Linked DNA regions of Homo sapiens: all the other regions are linked to region 5. The links come from fine-mapping of genetic effects on gene expression. A gene starts in region 5. Each other region holds a variant in brackets. All regions are shown on one strand. Distances are from middle to middle.

Region 1 (5,128 bases), 21 kb before region 5:
CTTCCACCACATTCTACTGGTCAAAGCAGTCACAGAGTCACTCATATTCAAGAGGCAGAAGTACAGACCTCACTTCTTTAAGCCACTACAGTGACAGGTGGTGATATGTCATTAGAGAAAGCCCTAAACAAGAACCTTGTCCCTCACCTGCCCCCAAATACCATGGAAGATGTCTTTTTTTTTTTTTTTTTTTTTTTGGGGATAGTCTCACTGTGTCATGCAGTGGTGTGATCTTGGCTCACTACAACCTCCTCCTCCTGGGTTCAAGCGATTCTCCTGCCTCAGCCTTCCGAGTAGCTGGAGTTACAGGCACCCACCACCTTACCCGGTTAATTTTTGTAATTTTAGTAGAGACGGGGTTTTGCCAAATTGGCCAGGCTGGTCTCAAACTCCTGCCTCAAGTGATCTGCCCACCTCGGCCTCCCAAAGTGCTGGGATTACAGGCGTGAACCACCACAGCCAGCCGAAGATATCTTATTTTTTCTTCATTAGCCACAAGATTTGATGGGGAATGTAATTTTTGTCTCCATGGGTTGCCTTAGCAAATGATGAGAAGAACATGAATTTTTCAATATTGTGCTCCTAGAGTGCCATTGAAATGGTAGTTCTGTCTCTTTTTCTGACAGTCCTGAGGCATCCCGGGAAATAGAGCCCAGCCTTTATCCCCGGTCCCCAGCACATCAGGGGAAGTGCACTCCTGTCCTTATTCCTCACTGCAGTGCATGCAGGGAGTTCTGGCCATCAGGTTATCTTCTATCCGTCTCCTTTCCCAAAGCATGCTGGGAAATGTGGGGATGTCTCCTTAGAACAACAAAATAGTTGCAACCTTTGAAGTTTAGGAGAAGACTAGAAGGTTAGTGTTCAGTGTGTGATCTGGAAGCTTGCATTTGTAAGAATTAAAGAAAGAGGAGGCCAGGCACGGTGGCTCATGCCTGTAATCCTAGCACTTTGGGAGGCCAAGGTGGGCAGATCACCTGAGGTTGGGAGTTTGAGACCAGCCTGAACAACATGGAGAAACCCTGTCTCTACTAAAAATACAAAATTAGCCGGGTGTGGTGGTGCATGCCTGTAATCCCAGCTACTTGGGAGGCTGAGGCAGGAGAATCCCTTGAACTAGGAGGTGGAGGTTGTGGTGAGCTGAGATTGTGTCATTGCACTCCAGCCTGGGCAACAAGAGTGAAACTCCATCTCAAAAAAAGAAAAGAAAAGAAAAGAAAAAGGAAAAGGAAAGAAACATGAAATGTGGCTTGACGGTGAAGGACAGGTTTATTTTAGAGAAAACCAACCTGAGGGGGGCTTTTGGCTGAGTTAGGTTAGAGAGCCCTTTTTTTTTTTTTTTTTTACAGACTAAGGATATTTAAGAGTTTTGGAAGGGGGTGCTTATCTAGGTTCGGAATGTTTTCATGTGAGGAAAAGTTTATTGTGGGGTTGGAAAGTCTCTGGTCGGAAGGGAGGCTATCTGGGGGTTGGCATGTTTCTGGTCAGAGAGGGGTTTATCTTAGGGTTGGAATGTTTCTGGTTATGCTGATGGTAGCCATTAGGCTGATGTTTTGGGGCTGGATTTAGCTGATTTTTTTTTGAGACAGAGTCTTGCTCTGTCACCCAGGCTGGAGTGCAGTGGTGCAATCTCGGCTCACTGCAAGCTCCACCTCCCGGATTGACGCCATTCTCCTGCCTCAGCCTCCCGAATAGCTGGGACTACAGGCACCCGCCACCACGTCCGGATTTAGCCGATTTTTAATCAAGAGGAACTAAGAATGGTGGTGTTTGTTCAAGATGGCAGTGCTCCTGCTCTGTCAGCATTTGGAGTCCAGAAATAGATGTGGAGGCAGCCCCCAGGAGGACTTCCAACCTAGGCAGGGGCCTCAAACATGACCCCTGATTCCAGGAGCCTGTGAAAAGGTGTCCCCCACCATTTATCCTCCCAAAGATAGACACTACAAAGAAGGGCATACCTGGCCTTGTCCACTGGTACAAAATCTTTATGTAAGTATAAAATAAATAATATGAATATTAATTAATAACAACAACACAACAGCGGCAACAATATTAATAATAACAAGAGCTCTCCCATTGGCCCACGGCCTTCCTCCAGCTTTTCTCTTCTGCTTCACACAACTTTGTGAGATAGCTGTTTTCATAGCTGGGAAAACTGAGGCCCAGAGAGGTCGGCACACTGGCCTGAGGTCACACAGCAAGTCTGTAGGGCTGGGAGCCGAGGGAAGGGCAAAGGGGTCCCCCGGATCCAGCCAGGGCAGAGAGGGGGATTTCAGGTTTAGGTCCAGAGGAGAGTGCCTCCCCACAGTCTGGCAGTCATTAGCAGGGTGATGGTG[A/G]GGCTGAGATGGGCAGGGCCAGGCTGAGGAGCAGCCCCACTGCGGTACTGGACATCCAGGTCTGGGTGGTTACAGCCACTTTTAGTACAGCAGGAGACATCAATGTGGTTCATGCTGAAGGCGTCACCCAGGTGGGCATGTTGGCACATTGAGGCGGTTGCACAGCCTCTTACCATATAGCTTTGGTTTTTCGGTTCTGAGGAAAGAGAAGACGGAGTGAGACTTCCAGCTCCTGGGCCCAGGACTGGAATTCTCCAGTAGGTGACCTGCCACCTTGCAGTGGGTGCCACCTTCACTACCACCTAGAGAAAGCAGCAGTTCTCAGGGCCAGGTGTGGTGGCTCATGCCTGTAATCTCAACACCTTGGGAAGCCAAGGAGAGAGGATAGCTTGAGCCCAGGAGTTCCAGACCAGCCTGGACAACATAGCAAAACTCTGTTTCTACAAACATAAAAAAGAAAAAAACAGCTGTAGTCCCAGCTACTTGGGAGGCTGAGATGAGAGGATCACTTGAGCTCAGGAGATGGAGGCTGTGGTGAGTTATGATCACGCCACTGCACTCCAGCCTGGGTAACAGAGTGAGACCCTGTTTCAAAAAACAAATAAAAAGAAAGAAAGGAAGGAAGGGAGGGAGGGAGGGAGGGAAGAAGGAAGGGAGGAAGGGAAGAAGGGAAAGAAAAGAAAGAAAGAGAGAGAGAGGGAGGAAGGAAGGAAGGAGAAGGGAAAGAAGGAAGGAAGGGAGGAAGGAAGGAAGAAAGAAAGAAAGAAAGGGAAAGAGAGACAGAGAAAGAAAAGGAAAGAAAAAAAAAGAAAGAAAGGAAGCGAGCAGCGGTTCTTAAAGTGTGGCTCAGGGACCCCAGAGACCCTTTCAGGAGATCTGTGATTTCACATGGCTTTTTCACTCTCATAAGTGTACAATGGGCTTTTCCAAAAACTCCAGGACATGTGATATTGCAAGAGACTGAAAGCAGAAGCTTCCATGAGGACCCAGCTGTCTTCTATTAAGCTGGACATTAAAGAGATGTGCAACACAGCAAAATAATGCCAGTTTTCTCATTACGCTTTTTTTTTGTTTTTTTTTTTGAGATGGAGTCTCACTCTGTCACCCAGGCTGGAGTGCAGTGGCACGATCTCGGCTCACTGCAACCTCTGCCTCCCGGGTTCAAGCAATTCTTCTGCCTCAGCCTCCCAAGTAGCTGGGACTACAGGCGCGACCACCATGCCCAGCTAATTTTTGTATTTCTAGTAGAGACGGGGTTTCACCATATTGGCCAGGCTGGTCTCGAACTCCTGACCTTGTGATCTGCCCGCCTTGGCCTCCCAAAGTGCTGGTATTACAGGCGTGAGCCACCGCGCCTGGCTGGTTTTTTTTTTGTTGTTTCTTTGTTTGTTTTTTTAAGACAGGGTCTCGCTCTGTTGCCCAGGCCGCAGTGCAGTGGTGCAATCTCCGTTCACTGCAACCTCCACCTCCCAGGCTCAAGTGACCCTCCCACCTCAGCCTCCCAAGCAGCTGGGACTACAGGCATGCACCACCATGCCCAGCTAACTTTTGTATTTTCTGTAGAGACAGGATCTTGCTATGTTGCCCAGGCTGGTCTCAAATCCCTAGGCTTAAGTGACCCGCCCACCTTGGCCTCCCAAAGTATTGGGATTATAGGCATGAGCCACCATGCCTGGCTATCATTACATTTTTTCTTTGGAAACTATACTTATTTTTCATTAAAATGTTATTTATCTTAATGTGTAATGAGTTTTTATTGTTATAAGATGAATTCATAAATAAATCTTTAAAGATTTCTCAGTTTTGGCTGGGCACGGTGGCTCACATCTGTAATCCCAGCACTTTGGGAGGCCGAGGCAGGCAGATCATGAGGTCAGGAGATCGAGACCATCCTGGCCAACATGGTGAAACCCCGTCTCTACTAAAATTACAAAAATAAGCTGGGCATGGTGGCTCATGCCTGTAATCCCAGCTATGCAGGAAGCTGAGGCAGGAGGATTGCTTGAACCCAGGAGGGGGAGGTTGCAGTGAGCTGAGACCATGCCACTGCACTCTAGCCTGGCGACAGAGCAAGACTCCATTTCAAAAAAAAAAAAAAAAGATTTCTCAGTTTTAATTTTAATTTAATTTTATTTTATTTTATTTTTTGGGACGGAGTTTCACTCTTGTTGCCCAGGCTGGAGTGCAATGGCACAATCTTGGCTCACCGCAACCTCTGCCTCCCAGGTTCAAGTGATTCTCCTGCCTCAGCCTCCCGAGTAGCTGGGATTATAGGCATGTGCCACCATGCCCGACTAATTTGTATTTTTAGTAGAGATGGGGTTTCACCATGTTGGTCAGGCTGGTCTTGAACTCCCGACCTCAGGTGATCTACCCACCTCGGCCTCCCAAAGTGCTAGGATTACAGGCGTGAGCCACCACTCCTGGTTCTCAGTTTTAATTTTAATGTGGCATTTATCTATAGAAATCACTGATATAAACAATAAAGAGTTTTTTTTTTTTTTTGAGACAAAGTCTCCCTCTGTCATCCAGGCTGGAGTGCAGTGGGGTGATCCCCACTCACTGCAACCTCCTCCTCCTGGGTTCAAGTGATTCTCGTGCCTCAGCCCCCTGAGTAGCTGGGGTTATAGGTGCACGCCACCACACCCAGCTAATTTTTGTAATTTTTTGTAGAGACAGGGTTTCACCATGGTGGCCAGGCTTGCTCTCATACTCCTGACCTCAAGTGGTTCTCCTCCTCACCCTCCCAAGGTGTTGCAATTACAGGCGTGAGCCACCACACCTGGCCAAAAATA
Region 2 (5,128 bases), 31 kb after region 5:
TGTGTGTGCACGAGTGAGCCTTAGCACGTTAGATTTGGATACTGGTGTGCTTGAGTTTGGAGTCTCCCCTCCACCCTTTACTCTGTGTAGCTCAAGGCAAGTGACTTTATCTCTTTGAGCCTCTGTTTTCTCTTCTGGTAATTGGGGATGGTAGACACACACCTTGAAGGGCGTTGTGAGGACAAAGTGAACTCATGAGGGAGGTGACAGAGTAAAGGGCATAAGAACAGGACTCTAGGGCCAGGCTGCCTGGGTTCAAATGCTGAATCCACCACCTGAGCTGGGTGACCTTGACCAGGTGACTTTGCCTCTCTGTGCCTCAATTTCTCCATCTGTAAAAGGGGATAACTTGGTATGCAACAAGTTCTTTAAAAAACAGGGGAGGGCCGGACGTGGTGGCTCACACCTGTAATCCCAGCACTTTGGGAGGCCAAGGCGGGCGGATCACGAGGTCAGGAGATCGAGACCATCCTGGCTAACATGGTGAAACCCCATCTCTACTAAAAATACAAAAAATTGGCCGGGCGTGGTGGCAGGTGCCTGTAGCCCCAGCTACTCAGGAGGCTGAGGAAGGAGAATGGCGTGAACCCGGGAGGCGGAGCTTGCAGTGAGCCGAGATGGCGCCACTGCACTCCAGCCTGGGCGACAAAGCGAGATCCCGTCTCAGAAAAAAAAAATAAATAAAATTAAAAAACTGAAAAAAATAAAAGATCTTTGGACTCAAACAGACCTGGGTTTGTGGTGTGGATTCACAATTTATCTGCAGTGTAGTCTTGGACAAGTTTCATAACCTCGTCTCAAAAAAAAAAAAAGAAAAAACAACAACAAAACGGGAATAACAACAGTCGCTAAGTCCTAAGACTGTTGTGAGAATTGAATAAGATAATCCACTAAACTATATCAGTGCTTTCTGAAAGAAATGTAATGTAAGACACGTGTGTAATTTAAAATTTTCTGGGCCAGGTGTGGTAGCTCACACCTGTAATCCCAGCTCTCTAGGAGGCCAGGATCGCTTGAGCCTGGAAGTTTGAGACCAGCCTGGGCAACAGAGGCAGACCCTATCTCTACAAAAAATTTTCAAAATAATTAGCTGGGCCTGGTGCTACGGCCTGCAGTCGCAGCTACTCAGGAGGCTGGGGTGGGAGGATCACCAGAGCCCAGGAGGTCGAGGCTGCAGTGAGCTGTGATTGTGCCACTGCACTCCAGCCTGGGTGACAGAGCGAGACTCTGTCTCATTTTTTTAAAAAAAGTTTTTAAAAAAGGAAACAAACATTGCACACGAGTGAAAACACACCTGTAACATACGTGTAAGGTAGAAAGAGTGACAACGAGAGAGAGACAGCCGTGACCAGCTCCCAGCTCAAAGAAAAGAACATTCCTGATGAGCTTTCACGAAGGACATGGACTCGAGGGGCTCGCGGGCCCTGTGCGTGTGCAAGGCGCGCGCGTGTGCGCTTGGGTGCGCGCGGGGGTGGCCTTCTGCCTGCGCGCGCCCCCACGTCCCCTCCTTGCACCCTGTCTCCGTCTCGGCAGGCGGCCGGAACGTGAACGTACGCGGCTGCGGCTCCCGAGACCTGTGCAGCGCCCTGGACTGGACCCACGGGCTCTCTGTGCTCCCAAGACACTGGCTGTCGAGCCACTGCAGCCCCCACCGCCGCGCCGTCCTAGAGTCCCACTGCCGCTCGGGCGCCGCGCCCGGCCTCCGCCTCTCCCTCCCGGTTCTGGTGGTAGTCCTGGCAACCGCGACGCTGTGCTAAGGAATCCCGCCTGGACCACCCCGCCGCCCGGGAGGCCCCCTCCACCTGCTTGTTCGGCACGTCGCTAGATGGTGCCCTGGCTCCCCTCTGCTGGGGCAATGCGGAGACCTGGAAGCCTCTGGTGAGAAACTCAGGAAGCAGGGATGAGCTTCCTCCCTCAGACTAGCGTTTCCCAAAGCCAGACCTTCTGCTCCAGACTCAGGGCTTACTCAAGGCTAAGTCCTCTTTCCTCACACCAGGGTCCCAAAGGCCATGCCTCCATCAGCCTAGGGTGTGTCTTCCCCGCTCAGACTAAGGCCACTCACCTGCTGCTGAGATCAGGCGTCTGCTCAACTAAGTTGGGGCGGGGCGCTATACCTCCCCCCTCAGATTAGCACCTTCCCCAAGGCCAAACCTCCTCCCTCAGAAGAGGGCTGTTCTTCTTCCTCAAGTTACTAAGCCTCCTTCTTCAAACGAGGGGATACCCAATATCCGGCTGCTCCCAGACACCAGGGATGTGTCTCTTCTCCCACACATTGACAAGCAACTTCTCTTTTGTTCTCCCTGTTTGGGGTCTAGCAAAATCCTGGGCAGCCAAGGCGGGGCTTGAGGATCCGATACACCCTCTTCCAAGGTTTTCAGAGCAGCCTCCTCCACCCCCACCATGGGCCAAGACGGGGCAGGGGGCATGGGTGGGGTGAGGAGCCCCTCTTCTGTGTGGGCCCAATCTCCCAGCTGTAACCAGATCTGAATGAATCACATCTCACAATGCCAAGTGGTTTGAGTTTCCTTTTTCTGAAGTTTTAGCCTCAAAGAGGGCCCTGATGTGGTCCTCTCTCCTCTGAGGCCAGGGGAGGTTAAGTTACTTCAACTGGTGAACCTGGAGGGGACAAACCGACAACAGTGTCTGGCCAGGGTGGGCATAAGACCAAATGCTGCATCTGGAACTGAACTCAGAGGATTGAGCGGAGAAGTGAAACTGGGTTGCTCACCACAGGCAGAATGCCAGGAACCATTTGCTTTCTGCTGAAAGTGGCTGAGCGCAGTGGTTCACGCCTGTAATCCCAGTGCCTGGGGGCTATGACAGTGGGAGGGAGGGCTACCTAAGAAATCACTCCAGGCCATGCACCAGACAGATTAGGCGGCGTGGCTCTAGGGGGCTTGAAAGAGACCGCCCCCGCCAGGCGCAGTGGCTCCCGCCTGTAATCCCAGCACTTTGGGAGGCCGAGGCCGGCAGATTACTTGAGGTCAGGAGTTTGAGACCAGCCTGGCCAATAGGACGAAACCCGTCTCTACTAAAAATACAAAAACTTAGCCGGGCATGGTGGCGAGTGCCTGTGTTCCCAGTCACTCAGGAAGCTGAGGCAGGAGAATCACTTGAACCTGGGAGGCGGA[G/A]GTTGCAGTGAGCTGAGATTGCGTCACTGCACTCCAGCCTGGGCAACAAAGCGAGACTCCGTCTCAAAAACAAAAACTGAAAGTAACAGAAAGCCCAACCGAAAGAATAGAAACAATTCATTTAACATTCATCTAACAAATCTTTATCAGTCACAAGCTATGTATTCTTTTGTAAATGAGACACTGGCGATACAGACAAAATTCTGTGCTCTTATGGAAGTGGTATTTTAGTGGAGGAGACACATAATAAATAAATATCACATATCGTACATCACATATCAGTGAGTACTAGGAAGGAAACAGTGCGGGGAAGGAGAATGGGGAACGCTGCCAAAGAGATATGATCTTATACATGGTGAGTAAGAGCCTCAGTAAGGTGACGTAAGTAAAGACCTAATTGAGGAAGTAAAGACCTACGTGGGGCAAGGGAGAAGGCCATGCAGTTGTCTGAGGTGGGGGAGGAGGACATTCCAGGCAGAGGGAACTGGAAAGGCAAAGGCTCCAAGGCAGATGCAGTAAGAAACAGTTAATGTGGGTCAGACGCAGTGGTTCATGCCTGTAATCACAGTGTGATTTTGGGAGGCTGAGGTAGGAGGATTGCTTGAGGCCAGGAGTTCAAGACCAGCCTGGGCAATATAGCAAGATCCCATCTCTACAAAACATTGAAAAGTTAGCCTAGCATGGTGGTGGACTACAGGTATAGCTGTAGTCCCAGCTGGTCAGGAGATCAAGACCATCCTGGCTAACATGGTGAAACCCCGTCTCTACTAAAAATACAAAAAAAAAAAAATATTAGCCAGGCGTGGTGGTGGGCACCTGTAGTCCCAGCTACTCGGGAGGCTGAGGCAGGAGAATGGCGTGAACCTGGGAGGTGGAGCTTGCAGTGAGCCAAGATCGCGCCACTGCACTCCAGCCTGGGCGACAAAGTGAGACTCCGTCTCAGGAAAAAAAAAAAAATTAAAATAAAAAAATTGAAAAAAAATAAAAGATCTTTAGACTCAAACAGACCTGGGTTTGTGGTGTGGATTCACAATTTATCTGCAGTGTAGTCTTGGACAAGTTTCATAACATCTCTGAGCCTTGTGTTCCCATATTGTAAGGTGTTATTGTAAGGTACATTAAGCACAAGGCTTGGCCCACCCTAAGCTTTCAACCAATTGAAATAGTCATGTCTTCAGGTTGTTAATCATGAGGACTGTGCTATTATTTATCCACATTGTATAGAGGAAGAAACTGAGGCTGAAGGAGGCTAAGAGACTGCTAGTATGAAGAACATTGGGACTGAACACACATCTGTCTGACTCTAGAAGATAAAATTTCCCCCCCTTAAACATTAAGAAAATGTCCAAATATACACAAAAGTAGAGAAAATAGTATAATATCTATGACAGACTGATACCCCAATCTATGATGGGACCAAAATGTGACTGAGCCCAGAGCCCATAGCAGGCGCCCAGGAGATGTTTGCAGCTGGAAGCAGTCATTAAATGACCCTTCAGTATCAATCTCTCAGTGTCCAAAATTATGCACATTTTGCCAAATTATCTCTCTCTTCCTTCCCCCTTCCCTGCCTCCTCCTTTCCTACACCTTCCCCTCTTCCTCCCTCCTCACCTCTCTCTTTTGCTTTTTTTTTTTTGAGATGGAGTCTCTTGCTCTGTTGCCCATGCTGGAGTGCGGTGGCGTGATCTCGGCTCCCTGCAACCTCCGCCACCCAGGTTCCAGCGATTCTCCTGCCTCAGCCTCCAGAGTAGCTGGGATTACAGGCACGCATTACCGTGCCCAGCTGATTTTTGTATTTTTAGTAGAGACGGGGTTTCACCTTGTTGGCTAGGCCTGTCTCGAATTCCTGACCTCAAGTGACCCGCCCGCCTTGGCCTCCCAAAGTGCTGGGATTACAACGTGAGCCACTGCTCCTGGCCTTTCCTTTGCTTTTACCCTCCCTCCTTTGCTCTTTCTCTCTCCCTCCTTCCTTTCTCCCTTCTTTCCTCCTCTCTCT
Region 3 (5,128 bases), 710 kb after region 5:
AAAAAATGGTCAGAGATTTCAGTAATAAACATAAAAGATAGGAGACTCCAGGAATGGATATACCTAGTGTAGTATAAATGTGACCTTTAAGATCAGTAAATAAAAAAGGGACTCATCAATAAATGTTGAAAGCCTTGACTATCCAATTGGAAAAAATTAAAATTAGATTTGTGCCTGACACCATTTAAAACATAGTCTTCATGTTTTGAAAATAATTAGTGCCTGGGAGTATGGGAAAGTTTTCTTTTAAAAAATCATTATACAAAAATTTCATAAACACATTGATATTTTAACCACATAAATTTTTTTAGCTAAGTTGCCCAGTCTAGAGTGCAGTGGCTATTCACAGTCACGATTGTAGCATCCAATAGCCTCAAACTCCTGCCCTCAAGTGATCCTTCTGCCTCCCCAGTAACTGGGACTACAGGTATGTGACAGGTATGTGCCACCACACACAGCCCAACCACATAAAGATTTTAAGTGAACAATAAAGTACCTCATTCTTTATGTTAATAGACAAGGACAGGCAATTCTTCATAAAGATAACATACACTTAGCCTATGACAGCAATTCCACTCCTAGGTATTTACCCAAGAGAAATCAAAGCATATGTCTGCAAAAAGGCTAATACAAGAATATTCTTAGTAGCTTTATCCAAAATTTCCAAAACCTGGAAACAAATGTTCACCAACATAAGAATGAGCAAACTGTGGTAATTTCCTGATTACTCTGAACATAAAAAGAAGACTGATAAGCATAATAATATAAATGAACTTAAAAACATTATGTTAAATGGTGGCAGCTTCTATAGAAAACAGAATGGCAGATCCTGAAAAAATTGAAAATACAATTACCATATGATCCAGCAATTCCACTTCTGGGTATGTGTCCAAAAGAATTGAAAGCAAGGTCTTGAAGAGATATTTGTACTCCTATGTTCATAACAGCATTATTCACAATAGCCAAAAAGTGGAAGAAACCCAAGTGTACAAAGGAAGAAAATTCTGACACATTCGACAACACAAATAAACCTTAAGGACATTATGGTAAGTTAAATAAGCCAGTCACAAAAAGACAAATACTGGGCTGGTCATGGTGGCTCACGCCTGTAATCCCGGCACTCTGGGGGGTCGAGGCGGGCGGATCACAAGGTCAGGAGATCGAGACCATCCTGGCTAACATGGTGAAACCCTGTCTCTACTAAAAATACAAAAAATTAGCCGGGCGTGGCGGCATGCGCCTGTAGTCCCAGCTACTCGGGAGGCTGAAGCAGGAGGATGGCGTAAACCCTGGAGGCAGAGCTTGCAGTGAGCCGAGATCTCACCACTGCACTCCAGCCTGGGTGACAGAGAGAGACTCTGTCTCAAAAAAAAAAAAAAAAGAAAAAGAAAAAGAAAAAGAAAAAAAAAAGGACAAATAGTGTATGATTCCATTTACGTGACTCAGAGAAGTCAAATGCATAGAGACACAAAGTATAGTGGCTGCCAGTGGCTGGGAGGAGGGGAAAATTGAGGGTTGCTGTTGAATGGGATAGAGTTGAATGGGATAGAGTTTTAGTTTTGCAAGATAAAATGAGTTTTGGAGATTGGTTTTACAACAATGTAAATGTACTTAACACTACTGAGCTATATACTTAAAAATGGTTAAGATGGTAAATTTCATGTTATGTATATTTCACCAGAAAAAAATTGTAAAAAGCCGAAAGCATTCCAGGTAGCTCTAGTTTGCATCTAAGATTAAGAGACATTTATTTCCATCAAAACCAAGGATCTGAAAGGAACCAATTTACAAGCTCACAAGTTAGCCTGACAGTCTCACAGATGCTGGCACAAGACAAGAGACTCCTGGCTCTGAGACAAAGGACTTTATTAGTCACAACCACAGCAGTAGCCAGAGTGTCATCCTTTGCAATGGTTTTTACCACTCTAATCCCATAGAGTGACGTGAAAGGCCAGGTGCTGCTTGCATACCTAGCGGGCTGCGTTGTAGGAATAGAACTCTAAGCTTAGGAAACCTGAATCTTCTATGATAGGCAGTGGGAACAAAACCACTGCCCTTCACCCCAGAGGGAGACACTGTCTTCACTGGAGTGGTCCATAAACAAATTTGCTGCTCCAGAGGAAGACACTATATTTTTGTTCCCTAACGCGTACGCACCTTTGAAAAGACAGTGGGGAACAAAGGTGACCAGTGTCTCTACTCAAAGACATGCAGAAAAAGAGAAGTAGATACTTAAGTAACCATAGTGTCTGCAGAAAAATAAAAGAAAAAAAATAAGAGAAGCAGATACAGAGAATGAGTGGGGAATGAGGAATAATAACTAATGTTACATTCTACTTCAAAGCCAGTTGACTACAGAAGAAAAAGGCCAATTCTGGGGTTACATCTCCTTTGTGAGTGGTATGCTAATAAATGTTTAATAAATGGCTCTCCAGAAAGAAACATACGTACATTATATAAGTTTACTATAAATTTTACTAATATAGAATGTTTTCAGAACACAATTTATAAACAATAATAAAATATGCAATACTCTATTTATTATAAATTACAAATTTAGAAAACCATGTTGAATGAAAAAAAAGCCAAACGCAAGAGTATATTACAGTATGATTTCATTTATATAAAGTTCAAGAATAGGCAAAACCAACATATGGTGATAGAAAGCAAAACAGTGATTATATCCTTTTTTGGAAAGAAATGAAGGGAAAGGGGCACAAGGGAAATTTTGGGGTAAAGAAAATGTTTAACAT[G/A]TTGAATGGGCATTATTTACAAGGATATGTACATTTGTTAAAACTTAAATGTAGTTAAAGTCTGCACTTTATGTAAATTATACCTGAAAAAAAAGACAAGACAGATCAGACATCTTCGGTAGCTGTTATTATGCTTCTATGGGCAGTCTAGTGGAGGCATAGCCACTGGGCCCAGTCTGCCAGCTGCATGCTATTTGTATTTATTGCCTGTAGTTGTATGAAGAGCTAGTGTTAAGTAGTGTTAAGTAGTAGTTATCAGTATAACTGATAACCCAGCATCAGTTATTAAAATGACTATTATTTCTCCAACATATTTCAAGGCTAATAAACTAACTCACTGTATACATGTGGATCTGTTTTTGGGCTCCCAATTCTTTTCCATTGATCTATTTTTTCTCTCCTGAGCGAATACCACACTGTATTAATTATAGAAAATTTATAATAAATGTTGATCTCTGGTAATGTAAGTCCACCAGTGTTGCTCTTCATCAAATTTTATCATCACACATAAGGGACTTTTTTTTTTTTTTTTTTTTTTTTGAGACAGAGTCTTGCCCTGTCGCCTGGGCTGGAGTGCAGTGGTGCGATCTTGGCTCATTGCAACCTCCACCTCCTGTGCTCAAGCGATTCTCCTGCCTCAGCCTCCTGAGTAGCTGGGATTACAGGTGCCTGCCACTATGCCCAGCTAATTTTGTGTATTTTTAGTAGAGACGGGGTTTCACTATGTTGGCCAGGCTGGTCTCAAACTCCTGATCTTGTGATTCAGCCACCTTGGCCTCCCAAAGTGCTGGGATTAGGACTAAGTTTTATAGGGAAAACATGTAAGCTAAGGGTCTGGAAGAGAAGGCACAGGACCACAATTTCTCATACCACTTGAAGAAGCACCAGGGCCTGGGTGAAGCAGGAAATAGACCACACCTCACCGCTATGTTTTTATCCTTCTTAAAGAGCAATTGTGAAGGCATCCATGTTGGTGAGGGAACAAATTGACTATGCAGGTAATCTGGACTACTTAACTAAAGCAGACAATCTGGCTTTAGTTGTCAGAGCTTCACAGAAGTTGCATGAGAAAGCCAGGTTCTAACACCTCCCATCAGGAAGAGAAAGCCGCTGGGAAGTTGAGTTCATGTAAAGCCCTTCCCACTGAAGAATGTGGGAGTCTGAGGCCCCAGATAGCTCCTCACCTAGGCATCCCAAAGGGAACTCCCAGAATTACCTTTGGACAATTCTGGTCATTGCACACAATTGTTATTGTGAATGAAACATTTTGGCTACATTTTATAAAAGACTCTTACATAGTAATGCTATGAATTTTCACATGCCAATTTCGTGTGAAACCAATTTGTTGACCCGATAATTTTAAAACAGCCTTCAATTGGTCAAATTTTACAGGTGGATTTGAATTTTATAAGTAAATAACATTATTCTCTAGCATAAAAATAGTATCTTCCTTTTCCTTCCAATGATTATGTCTCAACATTTTTTATTTTGTCTTAATCTCACCCCATGAATCTGGGCCAGTGTTGTGACTTGCTTTAATCATTAAAATGTGGTGAAAGTATCATTGAGCCTGTTCCCTGATGAGGCCTTAAGAGATCACAGCTTTTGCCCTTGAAACCCTGGCACTATGGGACCAACCCTCGATTGGTCTTCTGGAGGGTGAGAGACCATGATGACAGAGAGAACTTCGTTGTCTCATCTATGACCATCATAAAACAGCCAGGCCCAGATGAACCATCAGCTGACTGCAGATGCATGTACAAAGCCCAGTTAAGATAATCTAGCATGTCCCACACCAGAACTGCCCAGCTAAGCCCAGTTGAACTTGCCAGCTCACACATCATGAGCTAAATAAATATGTATTTAGAGCTACTCAGTTCTTGTGTGTGTTATGAGGCAGAAGCTGATAAGCATATTTAGGATAAATTATACATGAGCGAGTCTGTTACGCTTTTATCAAATCATTGGATTTGACATGCTCATATTTATTTAGGATCTCTGCATCTTCATTTGTAAATGAGATTGGCTCCCACTGATTGGGAGCTAGACTAATTTCTGCTTTTTCCATGCTACTTTGCTACAAGAGGAAAAGCAAACAATTTTGTGAAGTAGGGAGACATTCCTGTTAGCATCATATATTTAAAAAGCTTAATGTGATATGCAAGCGCTGCTCCCGGCCAAACTAGAGGATTGCCTGGGACACCTCCACCAACACTGAGGGCTGATTCTGTCATGAAGGAATGTTGCACCCATTCTAAACCCCAAAAGCTTCCTAGGATAATGTGTATCCCGGATTTTTTCTCTAACTTAATGTTTGCAAGTAGGAGTACTGGAGTATGTGGTGGACATGGACAATAACATGTGGACATTTTTAT
Region 4 (5,000 bases), 76 kb after region 5:
AATCCCAGCACTTTGAGAGGCCAAAGCGGGAGGATTGCTTGAGCCCAAGAGTTTGAGACCAGCCTGGGCAACAGAGGAAGACGCCATCTCTACCAAAAAAGTTAAAAACCAGCTGGTGTGGTGGCATGCCCCTGTAGTCCCAGCTACTTGGGAGGCTGAAGTGGGAAGATCACTTGAGCCTGGGAGGTAGAGGATGCAGTGGGCTATGATCGTGCCATTGCACTTGAGCCTGGGTGAAAGAACAGGACACTGTCTCAAAAATAAATGAATAAATAAAATTCTGCATATACTGTTAAGGGATTAATGGACTCCTGACGCTCATCCATGGAGGCCAGGGTAGTATCACCTGCTTTACAAAAAAACAGATCCCTGTATTTTTAGGTAACTTCAACATGTCTCTGTTCTTCACCACCCCAGTGGCTACTATCCATTCTCATTCCCCATTTTGATTCTCCCTTAATGAGATGTGTATCTCCCCCATTCCCAAATTCCTACATTTTTCCCTTTCCTTCTCTGCCCCCAGTTTCGGGACCTGTTTCTCAAGTTCTCCCCTCCCCAAAACCTGCTCCTGTGCCCTTATGCTTTATCTTCATAATCACATTCCATCCTTACTCAAGAATGTTGTTCAGGCCAGAGAATCCTCATGTCTGATCCTCCCCAGCCTGGAGAAGCAGAGCCATTTTCCCAAGGTGACACAGTAGGACTGAGGCTGGTACAGAAACCACTCTCTGTCTCCAGATCTCTTTCCCCACTCTATTTCTCAGATCGTATCAGCTACCATTCTGTGATACTTGCTCTATGCCAGGTGCTCATTAACTTTTGCCTTCTTGATCTTATTTTATTCTCCAAAAATCTACCTGGACAGGGGATACGGGAAATGAAGTGACCTGCCCAAGGTCAACCAGTTATGTTGCAGGGCTGAGCCTGAGGTGGGCCCAAATCCAAAACCTTAACAACTACATCATCCCACTTCTTGTCTAGGACCTGTACCATTTCCTGAGGCCAGGCAGGAAGGGAGGGAGGGAGGGAGGAACAGGATTGGATGCCTTGGAGCTACACAGATTTAGTCCAGCCCATTATCATCTTCATCTCATGAAGACACTGAGGTCTACAGAAGAAAAGCAACTTTCCAAAGTCCTTTGGTAACACCACTTGAAACACCCAAGCCCACCTTGCCCCTGCTCCCAGTGGGTGCCCACCTCCCTCCTGCACCCTATCTGATAGCCCCTCACCTCTGGTCCTCCTCTGGAGTGTTGGCTGACAACAATGACATGACCATGGACTTGCCTGTCCCCTGGAGGCCCAGGACACCAACCACCAACACATCAGTCTGATCCAACAGGTACTGTGGGAAAATACATAAATGACTCTGACAAGTCTGTCAGCTGCTGGAGCTGGAATGAGGGGGGGACTCCAGAGACCCTTGTGGCTCCCCCACCTGCCTTATCATATATGAAGAGAAACTCCTATAGTCCCAACCCCTTCAACTAGGCATAGGGCCTCTGTTCCGTGTCATGGTAGGATTATGTGAAATGTTTTAGACACAAACAACAGTGTCTGTGAGAACTCTGAAGTAGAAAAGAGCCTAGCATGGTCAAGAAGCTAAAAGGAAGTCAGTGTGGCTGAACACAGCGGGAAAAAGGGAAGTCTGATCTTGGAGAAGTGAAAGTGAGAGTCACAGGAACAGAAGGGCAGGTTGGAGAAGATAGGACTCGGCGACTGAGGGCTACTGGCACAGATTCCTGGCAAACCTGGGAAAGCACATGAAAGGGAGTGGTGTGCAAACAGGAGCCACCCAGGCTTTCGTCTGTGTGTGTGTTTTTTTGTTTTTTTTTACATTCATATGCTGTTGTCTGTGGGATTTAAGAGCCCCTCTGGAAATTAACTGAGACCAACTCTGGGCCACCAGCTCTGCTGACTTTCACCACCAGGGGGTGTAAGAGACACTCCTCAAGGAAAACAGCTACGTTCTGAACTGTGGCTGCTGCTCCTTAGAATTACCTTAAAATTTTGTTTTGTTTTGTTTTTTAAAAGCGAATCCTATAGGCCAGGTGTTGTGGCCCACGCCTGTAATCCCAGCACTTTAGGAGGCCAAGGTGGGAGGATCGCTTGAGGCCAGGAGTTCAAGACCAGCCTGGCCAACATGGTGAAACTCCGTCTCTACCAAAAATACAAAACCCGGCTGGGTGCAGTGGCTCACACCTTTAATCCCAGCACTTTGGGAGGCCGAGGCAGGCGGATCACCTGAGGTCGGGAGTTACAGACCAGCCTGACCAACATGGAGAAACCCCATCTCTACTAAAAATACAAAATTAGTTGGGTGTGGTGGTACATGCCTGTAATCCCAGCTACTCGGAAGGCTGAGGCAGGAGAATTGCTTGAACCCGGGAGGCGGGGGTTGCGGTGAGCCGAGATCGTGCCATTGCACTCCAGCCTGGGCAACAGGAGCGAAATTCCATCACAAAAAAACAAAAAAAAAAACAACTATCTGCGCGTGATGTCGCACACTTGTGGTCCCAGCTACCTGGGAAGCTGAGGCTGGAGAACTGCTTGAACCCGGGAGGTGGAGGTTGCAGTGAGCCGAGATGGTGCCAC[T/C]GCACTCCAGCCTAGGCAACAGAGCGAGACCGTCTCCTAAATAAATAAAGCAAATCCTGGGCCCAATCAGGATTTAACGTGCTTTAACACATTAAAGCAGAATATCTATGGATGCCCTGTTCAATCAGTAGGCATTGATCATACATGGCTATTTAAATTAGTAAGCTTAAACAACATTAAAAATTCTGTTTGGTTGTACTAGCCACATTTCAAGTGCTCTAAAGCCACATCTGGGGATAGCGGCTACCATACTGGACGGATAGTTCAAATATATATGATCTTCATCACTGCAGAAAGTTTTCCTTAATAGCGCTGAAGGGTAGGGTTTGGTTTTTTGTTGTTGTTCTGTTTTTTGTTTTTTTAAAGCTCCCCAGTTAATTCCAATGTGAGAGTGGACACAGAAGTGGCAGGGGCAAGGCAATAAATGGACTTGAGGCTGTGCTAATAAGTCCAGGCTGCTGGGTAGGAGAGGTGACACCTCTGGGACAATCTGAGCAGGGGTGTGACAGGTCTAGGGGAGAAAAAGCAGAAGAAGGGACACAACATCTGGGAGACTGGTGTTATGTATGATGATCTAGGAATGTGAGGTCTGAACTAGAGCAGGGGGTGGTGGGATGGATGGGGGTCACTTTGGGGGAGTGACATTCAAAACAGTTGACACTGAGACAGCGTGGGCTTCTTGTTCTTTTTTTTTTTTTTTTTACTGAGACAGGGTCTCACTCTGTTGTTGAGGTTGGAGTGCAATGTCATGATCACAGCTCTCTGCAGCCTTGACCTCCTGGAGTCAAGTGATCCTCTTACCTCAGCCTCCTGAGTGGCCTGGATGCCTCCTGCCACCATGCCTGGCTAATTTTTAAATTTTTGGTAGAAATGGAGTATTCCTATGTTGCCCAGGCTGGTCTTGAACTCCTGGGCTTAGGTGATTCTCCTACCTTGGCCTCCCAAAGTGCTGGGATTACAGGCATGAGCCACCAGCAAGGGTTTCAACCAAATAAGAAGGGTACTGGAGCAGGGTCCAAAAGACTCCCCTGCTGTGGATGGCACGGGAGATCCCAGGGGTCCTGGGGTGGTAGTGAGAGTACTTCTTTACCAATCGGTACCAAAGGAGTTCTGTATTTTACCAACTAGCAAGCACAGCCGAGCTAGTTGAAATTCCGCTCTGGTTAGGTGAGAATGTTCTGATACCACCCCCTCTCACTGCTGTAAGTTGCCTCAAAACCCTCCAGTCTGGTGTTGCCTACAGAGAGGTGGAAGATCAGAGGATGCAGGATGTGCGGAAGCTCAGGCAGGGCAGGACCCCTCGGTACCTCGATGGCACTGTCACACCAATTCATCTGGTCATCCACCAACTTGATGCTGTGCTTCATGCGCTCTGGGGGCAGTAGTTTGGCCTGACCCACGACAGCTGGAGATTGGAGAAAGCAGGAGACAGAGGATGCAGTGAGGATCTGTGAGGAGACGCCAGTTCCCAACCTGGTACTGCCCAGCCCCAACTCACGGTCCATGGCTGCTGGTGCGGCAGTGCCCATGCCCCGGTTCTGGATCTGGTACACAGGCTGTGTGGGTCTCTGCCCCTCCTTCTCCCCCTTGGGTGGCGCAGGGGCTGCAGGGGGTGGTGGGGCGGTGCCCTCAGGGGTAGAGGCACCTGTCACGGCCACAGGCCCCTTCCCCTCCTCCCGTGGCTTCATGAGAACGATGGGCTTCTCCAGAGGGGCTGGAGCAGGCGGGGCAGCAGGGGCTGTTGGAGGTGGTGGCTGTTTTGACTACGGAGGTAAAAAAAATCCCATCAATGGGGGCAATCCCTTCCCTAACGGCTCCCCCTCCTCCCTCCTTCTCTGCTCACCCGCTCTGCTGGAGGTTTTGAGAGGATGATGGGGGTTTTCTGCATGACGGAAGTGCTTGTCTCTTCGCTGGCATCCTGTGGTGAGGGAGGGCAGTTACTCATGAATGGCTCTCCTGGACATTCCAGATCTTTATGTACCATGAACTATTCTAAATGCCGAAATATATTAACTACCTTGATCCTACCAACAGCCCTGTGAGATAGATACTATTATTACCCCCACTTTACAGATGAAGAAAATGAAGCCTAGAAAGGTTAAGCAGATTGCCCAAAGTCACAAAGCCCAGGCAGCCTGGCTGCAGAACCAAATCCTCAAGCATTCTGCTCAGCTGCCTCTGCGAGGCAACAAGCCCAGGAGGAAAGGAACTAGGAGCTAGACAGGTCTGGGTGCAAACCTGATCCCGCCTCGTGTTGGCTGTGTGAACTTGAATAAGGAACCACCCTCGCCACCTTCACTTATGCCTCATTTTCCCATCTGTGAGTGGGTATGGGAATTCCTTCCTCACAGACTATGATGAGGATGAAAGGAGAGAGAACTCATCAAGTGTCTAGCATGGCACCT
Region 5 (5,128 bases):
TGAAATGGGCTCTCCTTGTTTGTTTGTTTTTAGTTTGCATGTCCCAGTTACTGGTGAGGAAGGTTTCTCAATCACTCGCGTTCCATGCTGCGCTGGAGGGGTGTGTGGGTTGGGGGGAAGCTCACCTTCCCACAAGCGCACGATCGTGGTCCTGCAGAGGTCCTGTCCCAGGGCGCACTCTTCCACACGGCAATCCCCGTTGGTCTTACACTGCATGCACCGCAGGCCCCAAGAGGCTGGGGGAAGGAGGGAGAGGAGAGGAGAGGTTAACTACGCTTAGCTCCAAGACCCCCGCTCACCCCTGCATGTCCCAATACCAACACCAAGTCTCCAGGCCCCGTCCATTCAGATTCGTGTCCATGTTCTGCTGGGTTCCGGCCGGCGGTACTTCCAGTCTGTCCGTTGTCCACGTTCTACCTCCACCCCACTAACTGAACGTTCTATCCCTGCCCACAAGTCCTTTCCCAAAGTCCTGCCTTGGCCCGTTTTTCCTTTCATTCTGTCCTCGTGAGGCGTATATCCTGACAGTCGTATCCCCGCCCTCTCTATCAGTACGTTCTATTCCTGCTCCTATTAGGTCTTTCTCACCGCACCGGCCCTCGGTCGATTACGCCTCTCCAGTTCTGCTGGGGACGTTCTAGCCTTGCCCCACCCGCGTCGATCTTTATGTTATACCGTCACTCCCAGTGCCCTAATGGAACTATCCCTCCACTCACTCCCCCTGGTTCTACCCGGCTCCAGAGCCTCTCCCGGCCCACTAATTTATTCCCAAATTCTAGGCCCGGCCCCATCAGCCCTCCGGAGTTTCTATTGTTAGATACTCTAGTTTCCCGCGAAGTTCTGTCTCCGCCCTCCAGCTCTCCAACTAGGTTTTGGCCCCGCTCCAGACTCATCGTCGAGGTTCTAGCCCCGCCCTTTAGCTCTTCCTGACCTTATCTTCCCGCCCCCTAGCTCCTCCCCGATGCCATAACCCCGCCCCTAGCTCCTCCTCGAGGCTTTAGTCCCTCCCTCTAGCTCCTCCTTGAGATTCTAACTTCGCCCTTTAGCTCTCCCCGCCCCTAGTTTTCCCCTGAGGTCATAACTCCGCCCCAGTCCCTTCTTGAGGTTTCAGCCCCACCCTGTAGCTCCTCCCCGAGGTCGTAACCCCCGCCCCTTGGCCCCTTGAGGTCCTAGCCCAGCCCCGTAGCTCCTCCCCAAGCTTATAACCCCGCCCCTAGCCCCTCCTTGAGGTTCCAGCCCCGCCCTCTAGCTCCTCCCCGAGGTTATAATCCTGCCCCTCAAGAGTCTAGTCCCACCTTCTAGCTCCTCCCGAGGTTATAACTCCGCCCTCTGGTTACGCCTCGAGGTTATAACCCCGCCCTCTGGCTCCGCCTCGAGGTTCTAGCCCCGCTCCTAGCTCTTCCTCGGTCTGTAACCTCTCCCGTAGCTCTTCCTTGAGGTTCCAGCCCCGCCCTCTGGCTCCTCCCCGACACTCTCTCCCCGCCCCAGGCTCCGCCCCGAGATTGCAGCCCAGTCCCTAGGCCCGGTCCCCGACCTCCGGGCCTTCCCGGACATCCCTTTCCAGCTGCGCGTTCGGAGTATCCCGGAGCTGTTACTCATTCCCGGCCTCCCGCGGTCTCGAGCGCTTTCCGGGTTATTCATCGCGGCCCCAACACCCTGTGGCCACCCGCCCTGACTCAGTTCCTTCTCGAATTCCTCGACCCAGAGCCCCCCACATTTTCCGGGGAAGTAAGTGAGAGTCGCCTCAGTGAGAGGGAAAGGTCCTGAGGGACAGTCCCGGGTCTCCAGCACTGGCTCTGCGCCGCTCAGTCAGCCTCCCTTTGGGCCTTTTGTAAAAGGGGGTCCTGTCCCCCCGTTTCTCAGAGGGGGAGACCCAGCAGCGTGGAGAGCGCTGGGGGGCGCTGCAGGGTCAGATCCTGCGTATTCAAGCACTGGCTGTGTGATTTTAGGCCAGTTATCTAACCTCTCTGTGCCCTAGTTTCCTCTGCGAAACGAAATTAATAAAGTCCCATCGCCTAGTTTGAAATTGCAAGGAAGAGGCTTCGAAGAACTCCATTTAAAAAAAGAACACTTGGGCCGGGCGCGGTGGCTCACGCCTGTAATCCCAGCAGTTTGGGAGGCCGAGGCAGGTGGATCATCTGAGGTCAGGAGATTGAGACCATCCTGGCTAACAGAGTGAAACCCGGTCTCCACTAAAAATACAGAAATTAGCCGGGCGCGATGGCAGGCGCCTGTAATCCCAGCTACCCAGGAGGCTGAGGCAGGAGAATCGCTTGAACCCGGGCGGCAGAGGTTGCAGTGAGCCGAGATCGCGCCACTGCACTCCAGCCTGGGCGACAGAGTGAGACTCTGTCAAAAAAAAAAAAAAAAAAAAAAAAGCACTCACTAAATTATGTAAAGCTAAATGCCTTTGCTCCACTAATATTTCCTTAGCTACTGAGTGCCAGGTACTGCGCCGCGTGGCGTTGCACAAAGCACGAGAATTACTATTATTTGATTAGGGAGGATGCTGAGGACTGAACCGCATTCCTCCAACTCATCCTCTGACAACCCCCAACCCCCTCAATTAGACCCTGTTCCAGGCGCAGGCGTTCGGGACCCAGCCCCTACCTGGGACGCAGGTGTGGAGCAGCAGCAGCAGCGGCAGCAGCGGCGGGTGACCCATGTCGCGAGGGCAGCTCCTGTGCGCGGGGTCCCTGCACGTCTTCTCTCCTTCTGGCCTCAGGAAGGAGGCAGTTTTGTGGCCCCAGGGACTCCTCCCAGACGTTTTGCGAAAGAGCGAGTCAGCCCCAGATGCGTGGGCGCCTCCCCCTCCTCCCGTACGAACCTCCTCCGCCACAAACTTCCCTTCCCGGGGCGCGGCCGGCTGGTGGTGAAGGGGCTGGCTCGGCCCTGACTCATGGAGTTGTGATCACAGCTCTGTCCCCAGATTGCCTGGGTGCAAATCCCAGTTCTCTCTCTTCCTAACGTGGGACCCGGGGCAATCGCTCTCCACTGCTGTAAAATGAGGATAAAAACTTTGACGGTAAATATGAATGTGGCTGATTATTTGGCTAACAGGATTTTTGTTAGTTTTGTCAGGAGGGATACTGGTATTTTGGAAAATGTCCTTATCTAGAGATGCATCCTGAAATATGCATCTCTTAAACACTTAAAACACTTAACCCTTGCTTTGCTTCCCGCTGTGCCCCCAGCTCCTGGACCAGTGCCCAGCACGAAGTAGGTCCTTGGTAAATGTTAAAGGAATGTGTTGAGCCCTCCATTTTGGCCAGCAGCTATTCCAGGCATTGCACCTACATTAAAACACTTAATGGTGAAACCCCGTCTCTACTAAAAATACAAAAATTAGCCGGGCGTAGTGGCGTGTGTGTGTTACTTAGGAGGCTGAGGCAGGAGAATCGCTTGAACCCGGGAGGCGGAGGTTGGGTTGCAGTGAGCCGAGATCGTGCCACTGCACTCCAGCCTGGCAACAGAACAAGACTCCTTCTCACAGAAAAAAAAAAAAAAAAAAAAAAAGACACTTCAGCCAAAAAAGTAGATATCACTGTTACGACAATGGCTGTATGCTTAGGTGGGATTCTGGTTTTTGTTTGTTTGTTTGTTTTTGCAGATGCTTACTAGAGTATTTAGTGGTGAATGTTATTGATGTCTGCATTTTTTGTTGTTGTTGTTTTGGGGATTTTTGTTTTGTTTTTTCTTTTTCTTTTGTTTTCATTTTGATGTCTGTATTTATTTTATAATATTTTAGAAGAGGTCAGATGAGGTGGCTCATGCCTGTAACACCAATGCTTTGGGAAGCCAAGGCAGGAGGATCACTTGGGGCCAGGAGTTCAAGATCAGCTTGGGAAACATAAAGAGCCCTCATCTTTCCAAAAGAAATTAAAAATAAAATAAAATTAGCTGGGTGCAGTGGCCCGTACTTGTAGTCCTAGGTAGTTGGGAGGCTAAGGTGGGAGGACCGCTTGAACCTGGGAACTGGAAGCTGCAGTGAGCTATGATTGCACCACTGCACTCCAACCTGGGCAACAGAGCGAGACCCTGTCTCAAAAAAATAATAAATAAATAAATACTTGAGTAGAAAATAAAGGCAAAATAGCCAAATGGTTGTATCAATTATATAAAGGTAATCAGTATATAAGGGCATATTATGCCATTCTGTCTCCTTTTCTGTGGGTTTGAAAAGGCTTATAATAAGTTTTTTCTTTCTTTTTATTATTTATTTATTTATTTATTGAGACGAAGTCTCACTCTGTCACCCAGGCTAGAGTGCAGTGGTGCAATCTCGGCCACTGCAATCTCCGCCTCCTGGGTTCATGCAATTCTCCTGCCTCAGCCTCCTGAGTAACTGGGATTACAGGGGCACGCCAGCACACCCGGCTAATTTTTGTATTTTTAGTAGAGATGGGGTTTCACCATGTTGGTCAGGGTGGTCTCGAACTCCTGACCTCAGGTGATCCACCTGCCTTGTCCTTCCAAAGTGCTGGGATTACAGGCATGAGCCACTGCACCTGGCCAAGTTTTTTTTTTTTTTAAGTAAAATAAAATACTAAAGATAAAATTGTCTCCCCGTCTTAGGATGCATCTAACTAAACAGAGCAATTTAATGTAGGTGCAATGCCTGGAATAGCTGCTGGCCGAAATGGAGGGCTCAACACATTCCTTTAACATCTACCAAGGACCTACTTTGTGCTGGGCACTGGTCCAGGAGCTAGGGGCACAGCAGGACGCAAAGCAAAGTTCCCACCTTTTGTTGTGTTGACAGTGGGGAGCAGATATGTGTTATCTAATCTTTCACTGTCTGAGAGGGATAAGCAAACTGGAGAAAACAAAGCAGGCTGAAGGAAGTATCTGGGTGCAAATGAGGTGTGAGCTGTTTTAGGTGGGTGATCCAGGAGGGGTTCCCTGAGCAAGTGGCATTCAAGCAGAGGCTGAATGCAGTGAGGGAAGAAGTAGGGCAGATGGGCAGGGAACCTTTCCAAGGAGCAGGAACAACCAGTGCAAAGGCCTTGAGGTGGAAGCCTGATGAGATTCTAGGAACAGAAGAGATGTCAGTGTGGCTGGAACAGATTAGGAGAGGAAGAGAGTCGTAGGGGATGAGTAAGTGGTAGCTACTTCTACTGCTGTAATA

What was found. PIP is the estimated chance that this variant, and not a neighbour inherited with it, causes the effect.
Region 1: its variant is fine-mapped to the expression of PLAUR in monocytes (Fairfax 2014, PIP 0.95).
Region 2: its variant is fine-mapped to the expression of PLAUR in whole blood (TOPMed, PIP above 0.99).
Region 3: its variant is fine-mapped to the expression of PLAUR in blood mononuclear cells (TOPMed, PIP 0.98).
Region 4: its variant is fine-mapped to the expression of PLAUR in blood mononuclear cells (TOPMed, PIP 0.99).

What each region holds. Positions count from the first base shown.
Region 1 is chr19:43,646,615-43,651,742 of GRCh38, forward strand. It overlaps PLAUR (plasminogen activator, urokinase receptor), which reads right to left. Exons shown (of 7, transcript NM_002659.4): 7 at 1,965-2,529. The coding sequence ends at 2,276. Among named protein-coding and RNA genes, the nearest start is that of CADM4, 9.3 kb to the left of the region's middle. The variant A/G (reference allele first, on the strand shown) is at 2,334.
Region 2 is chr19:43,698,015-43,703,142 of GRCh38, forward strand. It overlaps the pseudogene LOC105372412. Among named protein-coding and RNA genes, the nearest start is that of IRGC, 15 kb to the right of the region's middle. RefSeq lists enhancers at 2,430-2,930, 3,289-3,338, 3,349-3,398, 3,489-3,548. The variant G/A (reference allele first, on the strand shown) is at 3,132.
Region 3 is chr19:44,379,024-44,384,151 of GRCh38, forward strand. ZNF285 (zinc finger protein 285) reads right to left here. Exons shown (of 4, transcript NM_152354.6): 4 at 3,275-5,128. Among named protein-coding and RNA genes, the nearest start is that of ZNF285, 20 kb to the right of the region's middle. The variant G/A (reference allele first, on the strand shown) is at 2,754.
Region 4 is chr19:43,743,540-43,748,539 of GRCh38, forward strand. SMG9 (SMG9 nonsense mediated mRNA decay factor) reads right to left here. Exons shown (of 14, transcript NM_019108.4): 3 at 4,439-4,513; 4 at 4,094-4,358; 5 at 3,903-4,000; 6 at 1,233-1,345. Among named protein-coding and RNA genes, the nearest start is that of SMG9, 8.9 kb to the right of the region's middle. RefSeq lists a silencer at 4,245-4,374. The variant T/C (reference allele first, on the strand shown) is at 2,596.
Region 5 is chr19:43,667,456-43,672,583 of GRCh38, forward strand. It overlaps PLAUR (plasminogen activator, urokinase receptor), which reads right to left and starts at 2,714. Exons shown (of 7, transcript NM_002659.4): 1 at 2,611-2,714; 2 at 126-236. The coding sequence starts at 2,665. LOC124904724 (a long non-coding RNA gene) reads left to right here and starts at 1,309. Exons shown (of 3, transcript XR_007067264.1): 1 at 1,309-1,728; 2 at 2,571-3,025. RefSeq lists silencers at 1,213-1,442, 1,483-1,562 and an enhancer at 2,483-2,782.